Linked DNA regions of Homo sapiens: region 1 is linked to region 2. Evidence: fine-mapped expression QTL. A gene starts in region 2. The other region holds a variant in brackets. All regions are shown on one strand. Distances are between the middles of the regions.

Region 1 (4,383 bases), 99 kb before region 2:
GGCCAGCTGTCATAGCTCTCAGGCCCACTCTTCCTGTCAGGGCTGTGATGTTTCAGGGACTTCTCCTGAAGCCCCTTGGGAGGCTGCTTCTTGCCTCAGGACCCCCACCCACTGCCTGCCTGTGCCAGCCACCTGGAGGGAGCCCTCCATTCCGTTGACTGAGGAGGCAGCAGATGTCATAGAACTGCCATTTAGGCCACAAGCTCTCCCTAAGCCTGCTCTGTGCCCAGCTCTGCTGAGCTGTGAGGACCTAGATGGGCCAGGGAGATGGCTGCCTGGGAAGCCGTCAGGCGAGGGGAGAGAAAGACGCACACGCAGAAACGTGGACGGCAGTCACAAGACCGCTAGCAGATGAGGCAGGATCTCAGCATCTGGTGAGAGGTAGGCAGGGACGGCACAGGCGGCCACACTTCCTCTGAGCCAGGCACTTTGCATGTATGGCCACATGCTCATTCCAGTGAGACAGCGGTTGCTCAAGCCATATTTGTCACTTGATATGTGGCATTGGGCAAGTTACTTAATTTTTCTGAGCACCGATTTCCTCACTGTTGAAATGGCGATGAGAACGCAAAGGATGTGGCGTCTGAGGTGGACGGAGCTTAGGGCTGCTTGGGCCACAGTGGGCACAGAGCTGGGTGCCAGGAGGCCTTCAGGACATATTTCCTGGCCAAGTGCATTCCCAAATGGCATTCCTTATCCTCTTCCATGTTCTCTCCCAGAGGTGGTGCTGAATGACCTGAGGCTGTTCCAGAATAAAGGTATACACACAGCCCCGCTATTGGCATCTTGCTAGGCAAGCCAACAAAAGGCGCCCCCAGCAGGAAGCAAAGCTTTAAATGAACATGTGACCTCTCCGGGGCCCCCTGGGACCTGCCACCCACACTCACGTGGTTGGGGCCATTCAGGGCTGTGGGTCCCATGTGGACTGGATGCCCAGCGTGAGTGTATACCGTGAGGGCCTTTGAGCTCTCGGACAGCGTGGAGTGGTCAAGGGAGGCCTCCAGGAGGAAGAGGTGGCCAACCGCCCCAGGCAGCACAGTGGTGAGGGGGCCCTGGAGGGGCTGGCCTGGGGGAGATGCAGGCCAGAACACACAGGTCCCTGAGTGTTGGGCTGAGGAGCCTGGGCTGCACCCCAGGAAGGGGAGAGACAGGTTGGTCTTGGGTTGTGGAGAGTGCTGCATGGAGGCCCAGTGGGGCAGTGGCCCCTGGGGGGATGCCAAAGGCTGGTGATGTTCAGTGGCTCGTGAGGTGGAGAGGAGCAGGTGAACACGAGAGAGATTTCAGGGAGAAAGAAAAGCAGCAAGATGGGGTGAGGCGCTCAAACCAGGACGCCGAGTGGGAAAGCCAGGAGTTGGCTAGAGAAGGGTCCTGGGTGGAGGCAGGGCCAGGGAGTGTCAGGCCCAGGGTGCGCAGCTGCCCGGGGCGGGACGGGGGAGGGGCGGGAACTCATGACTCGGGGAGCCAGACTGCGATCAGACGCGCGTGCCCAGCTGAACCAGGTGCGTGAGAAGGCTGCCTTCAGGTGGCCGGGGGCTCCCTCCAGGTAGGTGTGGGCACCTTGGGCAGCCAGAACCCCAGGGAGGAAATACATGCTGCCCCCAGCCCCTGAGCTGAAGACAGGCTCCCCTCCCCCCGGCCTGCAGCTGTCTCTAGACGGAGGGACGGGAAGTGGCCAGAAGGGGAAGTGTGAGGAGTTCCCGTCCAGCCTGTCATCAGTCTCCCCAGGTCTTGAAGCGGCGGCCCTGCTCCTGGCCGTGACCATGGACCCTCTGGAGACCCCTATCAAGGATGGCATCCTCTACCAGCAGCATGTCAAGTTTGGCAAGGTGGGGACCCCTGGCTGCCAGGCAGCTGCCAAGGACCAACAGTGGGTGGAGAATGCAGCCTCTGCCCCTGCCTCGGACAGCCCAGGCAGACCTGGGAGACTTGGGAAGGGAGTCAGGGTGGAGGATCCCACCCAGGTATGGGGAGTGGAATGGAGTGCGGGTGTCAGCCTGAGACGGCAGGGGCTGAGCAGGCTCTGCCAGACCCTGCCTCCGGGAGAGATGGGAAATACAGGAGTGGGAGAGGGTCGAAGGCTCAAACCTCCCAGCAGGGAAGAGCTTCACAGCCTCTGACCCATGAAATAGTGCCACCGAGGGCCCTAAATAGGGTGAGGGGCTGAGCTGGAGGAGGCCTCAAGGGTGGAGCCCCTCCCTGCAGCGGCACTGTCCTGGGAGCAAGGAGGCAGGGGGTCACCTCTCCTCGGCAGCAGCCCCACACCCCCGCAGCTCAGCTGCAGCTGCTGCCCAGGCAGATAAACCGTCAGTTTCCTTTGCTCGAAGCTATTTGCATGTTTCCTTCCTTAACAGCTTGAGGCAGAGGCCTCCCTCCCACCCCAGCTCTTGGCCTGTGGCCCAAGTGCCCCTTTTTGGGGGTGAGAGGGAACCAATATAATGGCAGTGTCTGGTGGTCTGCCCGGCCACTGGATGCTTTACAAACATGACCCAGTAGCAGTCCCAGCTCGAGTTCTCATGGCCTTTTGAGAGACGACATTGATGCTTGTGGAGGTCACAGTTAGGAAAGAGCGGGCTGGGATTTGAACCCAGGGCTGACCAATCCCAAGCATAGCCAAGGCCTCCTTACCTGGCTCCCTGAGAAACTGGGGAGCAGAGGCCCGCTCCTGGCTGGGAGCGTTTGCCGAGCAGCTTGTGCTGAGCCAAGTGGCACGGACAATCTGCCACCCAAGGGTCTTCACCCTCCCGCTCCCCTCCC[G/A]CAGAAGTGCTGGCGGAAGGTGTGGGCTCTGCTGTATGCAGGAGGCCCATCAGGCGTGGCACGGCTGGAGAGCTGGGAGGTCCGGGATGGTGGCCTGGGAGCAGCGGGTGACAGGTCGGCAGGGCCTGGCCGGCGAGGGGAGCGACGGGTCATCCGCCTGGCTGACTGTGTGTCCGTGCTGCCGGCTGACGGCGAGAGCTGCCCCCGGGACACCGGTGCCTTCCTGCTCACCACCACCGAGCGAAGCCATCTACTGGCTGCTCAGCACCGCCAGGCCTGGATGGGCCCCATCTGCCAGCTGGCCTTCCCGGTGAGTGCGGCGAGCAGGGGGGCGATTGGGCTGGGGCACCTGCCCCCGACTTGTCCACCTCCACGCTCACATCCCATCACCCAGCAAGCTCCACCGAGCACCTACAAGCCTGGGAAAAGTAAATCTATAATGACTCTCAGAGGGCCGTGCGTGCCATGGAGAAAATGGACCGCCAGGGGAGCAGGAGGAAGTGAGGGAGCGACGGGCAGGGTGGCCAGGGAAGGCCTCTCAGAGGAGGGCCCTGAATGACAGGAACCCACTGGGCAAAGGTCTGAGGACAGGGGCAGCCTGGGGAGTTGTGAACAGAGGGAGTCCCGTGGGCAGAGGCCCCGAGGCCGGACAGTGTGGGGTGTTTAAGGGCAGAAAGAAGGCGACGTGGCTGGAAGGAAAGGAGTGCAGGAGGAAGCCAACTCACAGAGCTTAGGAGAGCGGCTGAAATGCCCTAGGCCATGTGTGTGGTTTTGTTCTGAGTGAGAGGCGAAGGCTTTGGAGGGTTTAAGCCGGACATGTTTGTAAAGCCCCAAAAGGTCTGTGATGGGTCAAAAGGAAGTGAGCCTGGGGGTTCTTCAAAGAGGTAAACAGAGTTACCATGTGGCCCACAGGTCCACTCCTAGGTGTGTGCCCAAGAGAACTTGAACAGGTGTTCAAACAAAACATGTACATGTGAGGCAGGAGGATCGCATGAGCCCCAGAGGTCGAGGCTGCAGTGAGCTGTAATCGTGCCACTTCACTCCAGCCCGGGAGACAGAGCAAGACCCTATCTTAAAAAAAAACCCACATGGACATGAACGTCCATAGCAGCACTACTCACAGCCACCAGAAGGTGGAAACAGCCTACATGGCCATCAGCTGACAAATGGATAAGCAAAACGTGGTCCGTCCGCAAGATGGAATACTACTCAGCCATAAAAACAAACAAACGCCTGGCACAGTAGCTCTTGCCTGTAATCTTAGCACTTTGGGAGGCTGAGGTAGGAGGATTGCTTGAGCCTAGGAATTCAAGATCAGCCTGGGCAACATAGTGAGACCCTGTCTCAAAAAAAAAAAAGAAAAGAAGAAAGAAAGAAATGTACAGACAAGGTAACTCCATTGGGATAGAAATCAGATGAGTGTTGGCAGGAGCTGGAGGAAGGGAGAAGTGGGGAGTGGCTGCTCATGGGTACAGGGCTTCCATGTGGGATGATGGAAAAGTTCTGGAACTAGACAGTGGCAACAGTGCACAGCCTTGTGAGTATACTAAAAAGCACTGGTGGCCGGGTGCGGTGGCTCAGGCCTATAATCCCAGCACTTTGGGAGGCCGAGGCGGGCGGATCACCTGA
Region 2 (4,383 bases):
ATCAATCCATCAGTACTAGTTCTCAAATGTCGTGTAACAAATCACCCTAACTTGTGGCTTAAAGCAACAACATTTAATGATGATTTATCACAGTTTCTGATGGTCAGTTTTGCCTTGAGGTCTTTCATAAGATTGCAAGCCAAATGTCAGCGAGGGCTGCAGTATCCACTTCCAAGGCAGCTTATTCATGTGGCTGTCCAATTGGCACTGGCTGTCAGCAGGGTGCTTTCCTTTCTCCCTACATGGGCTTCTCTGCAGGGCTGCATGTGTGTCCTCACAACACAGTGGCTGGCTTCCTCCAGAGTGAGCAACCTAAGAGACCGAGGCAGAAACTGCAATGTCTTTTATGACCTGGGCTTGGAAGTCCAACACCCTCACTTCTGCCATATTTTTTTTTTTTTTGAGACAGTCCCTGTCGCCCAGGCTGGAGTGCAATGGCACAATCTCTGCTCACTACAACCTCCACTTCCTGGGTTCAAGCGATTCTCCTGCCTCAGCCTCACGGGTAGCTGGGATTACAGGCACACGCCACTACGCCCGGCTAATTTTTGTATTTTTCATAGAGATGGGGTTTGGCCAACACGTTGGCCAGGCCGGTCTTGAACTCCTGACCTAGAGTGATCTGCCTGCCTTGGCATCCCAAAGTGCTGGGATTACAGGTGTGAGCCACCACACCCAGCCACTTCTGTCATATTCTGATGGACACACAGAACAGCCCTAACTCAATGTGGGAAGACACCATACAAGGGCATGAATCCTAGGTGGTGAGGATCAATGGGGGCTGTCTTTGAGGCTGTCTACCACAGCATCTTTCCATCCTTCCTGCCCTGTTTGCTTTGCTTTTCCTATGTGTAGGCTTCATTCTCAAACAGGCCCTCCCTAGAGAGTGACAAAGGTGATCATCAATGTGTTCAGACCCACATGCTCTGTGCTTAGTAACCCCAGTGCAACTTTTTTGCTTTCCCAAAAGTTCTGGCAAAAGTCCCAAGCTAGCACTTTAATTGGCCTAAATTGTGTATATGCTTATCTCTGAACCAATCACTGTGGATTAGAGATGTCATGCTCTGATTGACCAGACCTAGGCCACATCTCTAGCCCTAGCTCTGAGGGTAGAGTTGGCAGCACTAGAGCCCATGGAAGAAGTAAGAGAGGAGTCGTTGCTAAAGGAAAAATCAAAGTGTCATTACCGAACCAGGACAGATGCTGGGCAGCACATGTGCACCCCGTCTTCTTCTCATGTTCCAGCTGCACATCTTAGTGCCCCTTGGTTTAGCACTTTTCTCATTAAATCATTTGCTTTCTTGCCTCACTTCCTGTGGTTGGTAGAATGCTAAGATGGCCCCAAGATCTCTACCCCTGGTGTTTGCACACCTCCCAGTTATTCTGTCAAACATGAATGTAGATGCTTCTGTGAAAGAATTTTGCACATGTAATTTAAGTCCCAAATTGTTTGACCTTAAAATAAGGAGAATGGCAGGGCCAGGCATGGTGGCTCATACCTGTAATCCCAGCACTTTGGGAGGCCAAGGCGGGCAGATCACGAGGTCAGGAGATCGAGACCATCCTGGCTAACACAGTGAAACCCCATCTCTACTAAAAATACAAAAAATTAGCTGGGCGTGGTGGCGGGTGCCTGTATTCCCAGCTACCCAGGAGGCTGAGGCAGGAGAATGGCGTGAACCCGGGAGGCGTAGCTTGCAGTGAGCCAAGATCGTGCCACTGCACTCCAGCCTGGGTGACAGAGCCAGACTCTGTCTCAAAAAAAAAAAAAAAAAGGAGAATGGCTTTGGTGGGCCTGACCTAGTCAGGTGAGTTCTTAAAAGGCGACACATGGCCCGGTGCAGTGGCTCAGGCCTGTAATCCCAGCACTTTGGGAGGCCGAGGCGGGTGGATCACGAGGTCAGGAGATCGAGACCATCCTGGCTAACATGGTGAAACCCCGTCTCTACTAAAAAGACAAAAAATTAGCTGGGCGTGGTGGTGGGCTCCTGTAGTCCCAGCTACTCGGGAGGCTGAGGCAGGAGAATGGCGTGAACCCGGGAGGCGGAGCTTGCAGTGAGCGGAGATTGCGCCACTGCACTCCAGCCTGGGCGACAGAGCGAGACTCCGTCTCAAAAAAAAAAAAAAAAAAAAGAAAATTAAAAGTGGGTATTGTTGTAAGATGCTGAGTTTATGGTAGTTTGTTACATGACAATAGAAAATGAACACACTTCACAGTGGACTCCAAGATCCCCATGATCTTTGATCTCCTTAACCTCCTGATCTCCACAGGACCCAGAGCATAAGAATGTCCCTTCTTCTGCTTCCAGTCCCACTATCTAGAAAAGAGAGGAGGAGCCCAGCTCTTCATTTCACCCCCACCCACAAACTCCCAACTTTCCGGCCCTCAAGGGGTGACCAAGGAAGTTGCTCCACTTGGCTTTCCACAAACAGCCTGTGCCCCACCAGGCTCAGGAGGGCAGCTTGACCAATCTCTATTTCCAAGACCTTTGGCCAGTCCTATTGATCTGGACTCCTGGATAGGCAGCTGGACCAACGGACGGATGCCATGAGGGCTCTGCTGCTCCTGGGGTTCCTGCTGGTGAGCTTGGAGTCAACACTTTCGGTGAGTGCTGTGGGAACCAGGATTGTCCCAGGATTGTTCTGGGGGGTCGCTATCACAGCCATGAGCCATGGCCTCTGCTCATGACCTGTGGGTCCAGGTGACTAGGAGGCCTATGTGGAAAGGTGAGGCCAGCCCGGAAGGCCCAGGCAGAGGAGACAGACAACCAGACTGGGTGGATACAAGGGCACAGCCTGCATTTCTGGGGGAGATGGGCCTTAAGAAGACAACGGGGGGAGGTAGAAAGGGTTTGGGTCTTGGGAAGAAATCTCTGCATTTCTGGGCTGTGAGAGGAAGCTGCAGACTAGCAACAGATCGGTGGCAGGCTATGACTTATAGTCAGTTCCCTGCCTTCTTCTCTCCCTTGTAGATTCCACCTTGGGAAGCCCCCAAGGAGCATAAGTACAAAGCTGAAGAGCACACAGTCGGTAAGTGGCCTGGCTCCTCCTCCCGGGAACCCTTGGGTGGGGATGTGTATGGTGCAGTGTGTGCAGTCTCAGGGCAGTCTAGTCTAGTGCCTACCTGGTGCTAGGTCTTATGCCCATGGGCACTAGAGTGATCGTGAGCTGTGTGATCCTTGAGGGCAGGGTATGGGCTGTGTCTAAGTGCCCACGAGCCTGGCTCGGAGCAGGTGCTTGAGATATGTGCTGCTGGCGCCATCACACCTGGGCTCCTGCCAGCCTTCCTCAGTTTCCCCAGCTTCTCCCCTTCTTTTCCTTTCCCCAGTACGTCTCATGGGCATCATTCATGCCACACAGAGGCCAGGGCCTTCAATGGGCAAGGAAGGATCAAGAGCTTGTCTCTGGCATCTGAATGCCTCTGAAGCCCAGCTTTATCACTTATGAGCTGGGTGACTCTGGGCGAGGGATTTGAGTTCTCCAAGCTTCAATTTCCCCTTCTGTGAAACCAGGTTGATAACAGTAAACCTCTTAGGGTTGTTGAGAAGGGAAACCCATGTGAGGTATTCAGCCCATCACCTGGTGCATGGAAATGCTTTACAAATATTAGCTTTTATTATGAAACTACCTTTTAGATGAAGGGTACCTGCCATTTCCCCCTTCCTCAAGCTCTGCCATAGCTCCCCATTGCTTTCATTCTTCCAGACACTAAATTACCTACATGCCAGGCATGGTGGCTCATGCCTGTAATCCCAGCACTTTGGGAGGCCAAGGTCGGTGGATCATGAGGTCAGGAGTTCGAGACCAGCCTGGCCAACATGGTGAAATGCTGTCTCTACTAAAAGTACAAAAATTAGCCAGGCATGGTGGCATGCGCCAGTAGTCCCAGCTACTCGGGAGGCTGAGGCAGAAGAATTGCTTGAACCTGGGAGGTGAAGGTTGCAGTGAACGAAGATCACACCATTGCACTCCAGCTTGGGCAACACAGCAAGACTCCGTCTCAAAAAAAAAAAAAAAATTTACCTAGAGTGTGGCACATAGCAGGGCCTGTGAACCAGATGGACCTTACCCTGGTGGGCCTGACTTGGTGGGGTTGAGTCTCTAAGCATGGCGTTGAGGCCCAGCACATTCCAACCCTGGACTCCCTCAGCCTCCTCTCTTCACCCCACACCCAAAAGTTTCTCCTCTCTCTTGCCTTACCCAAACTTGGTGCCCTATCCTTGCCTAATCCCCTGCCTAAGGTCCCCCTCCTCTCTGTCCGTCCATCCCATCTGCATCTTTTTTTTTTTTTGAGATGGAGTCTCGCTCTGTCCCCTAGGCTAGAGTGCAATGGCGCGATCTTGGCTCATTGCAACCTCCGCCTCCTGGGTTCAAGCGATTCTC

What was found. PIP is the estimated chance that this variant, and not a neighbour inherited with it, causes the effect.
Region 1: its variant is fine-mapped to the expression of F12 in liver (GTEx, PIP 0.93).

What each region holds. Positions count from the first base shown.
Region 1 is chr5:177,506,918-177,511,300 of GRCh38, reverse strand. DOK3 (docking protein 3) reads left to right here and starts at 1,475. Exons shown (of 6, transcript NM_001308236.3): 1 at 1,475-1,543; 2 at 1,644-1,826; 3 at 2,759-3,064. The coding sequence starts at 1,761. RefSeq lists enhancers at 1,070-1,219, 3,040-3,089, 3,110-3,219 and a silencer at 1,350-1,489. The variant G/A (reference allele first, on the strand shown) is at 2,755.
Region 2 is chr5:177,407,693-177,412,075 of GRCh38, reverse strand. F12 (coagulation factor XII) reads left to right here and starts at 2,512. Exons shown (of 14, transcript NM_000505.4): 1 at 2,512-2,605; 2 at 2,973-3,030. The coding sequence starts at 2,549.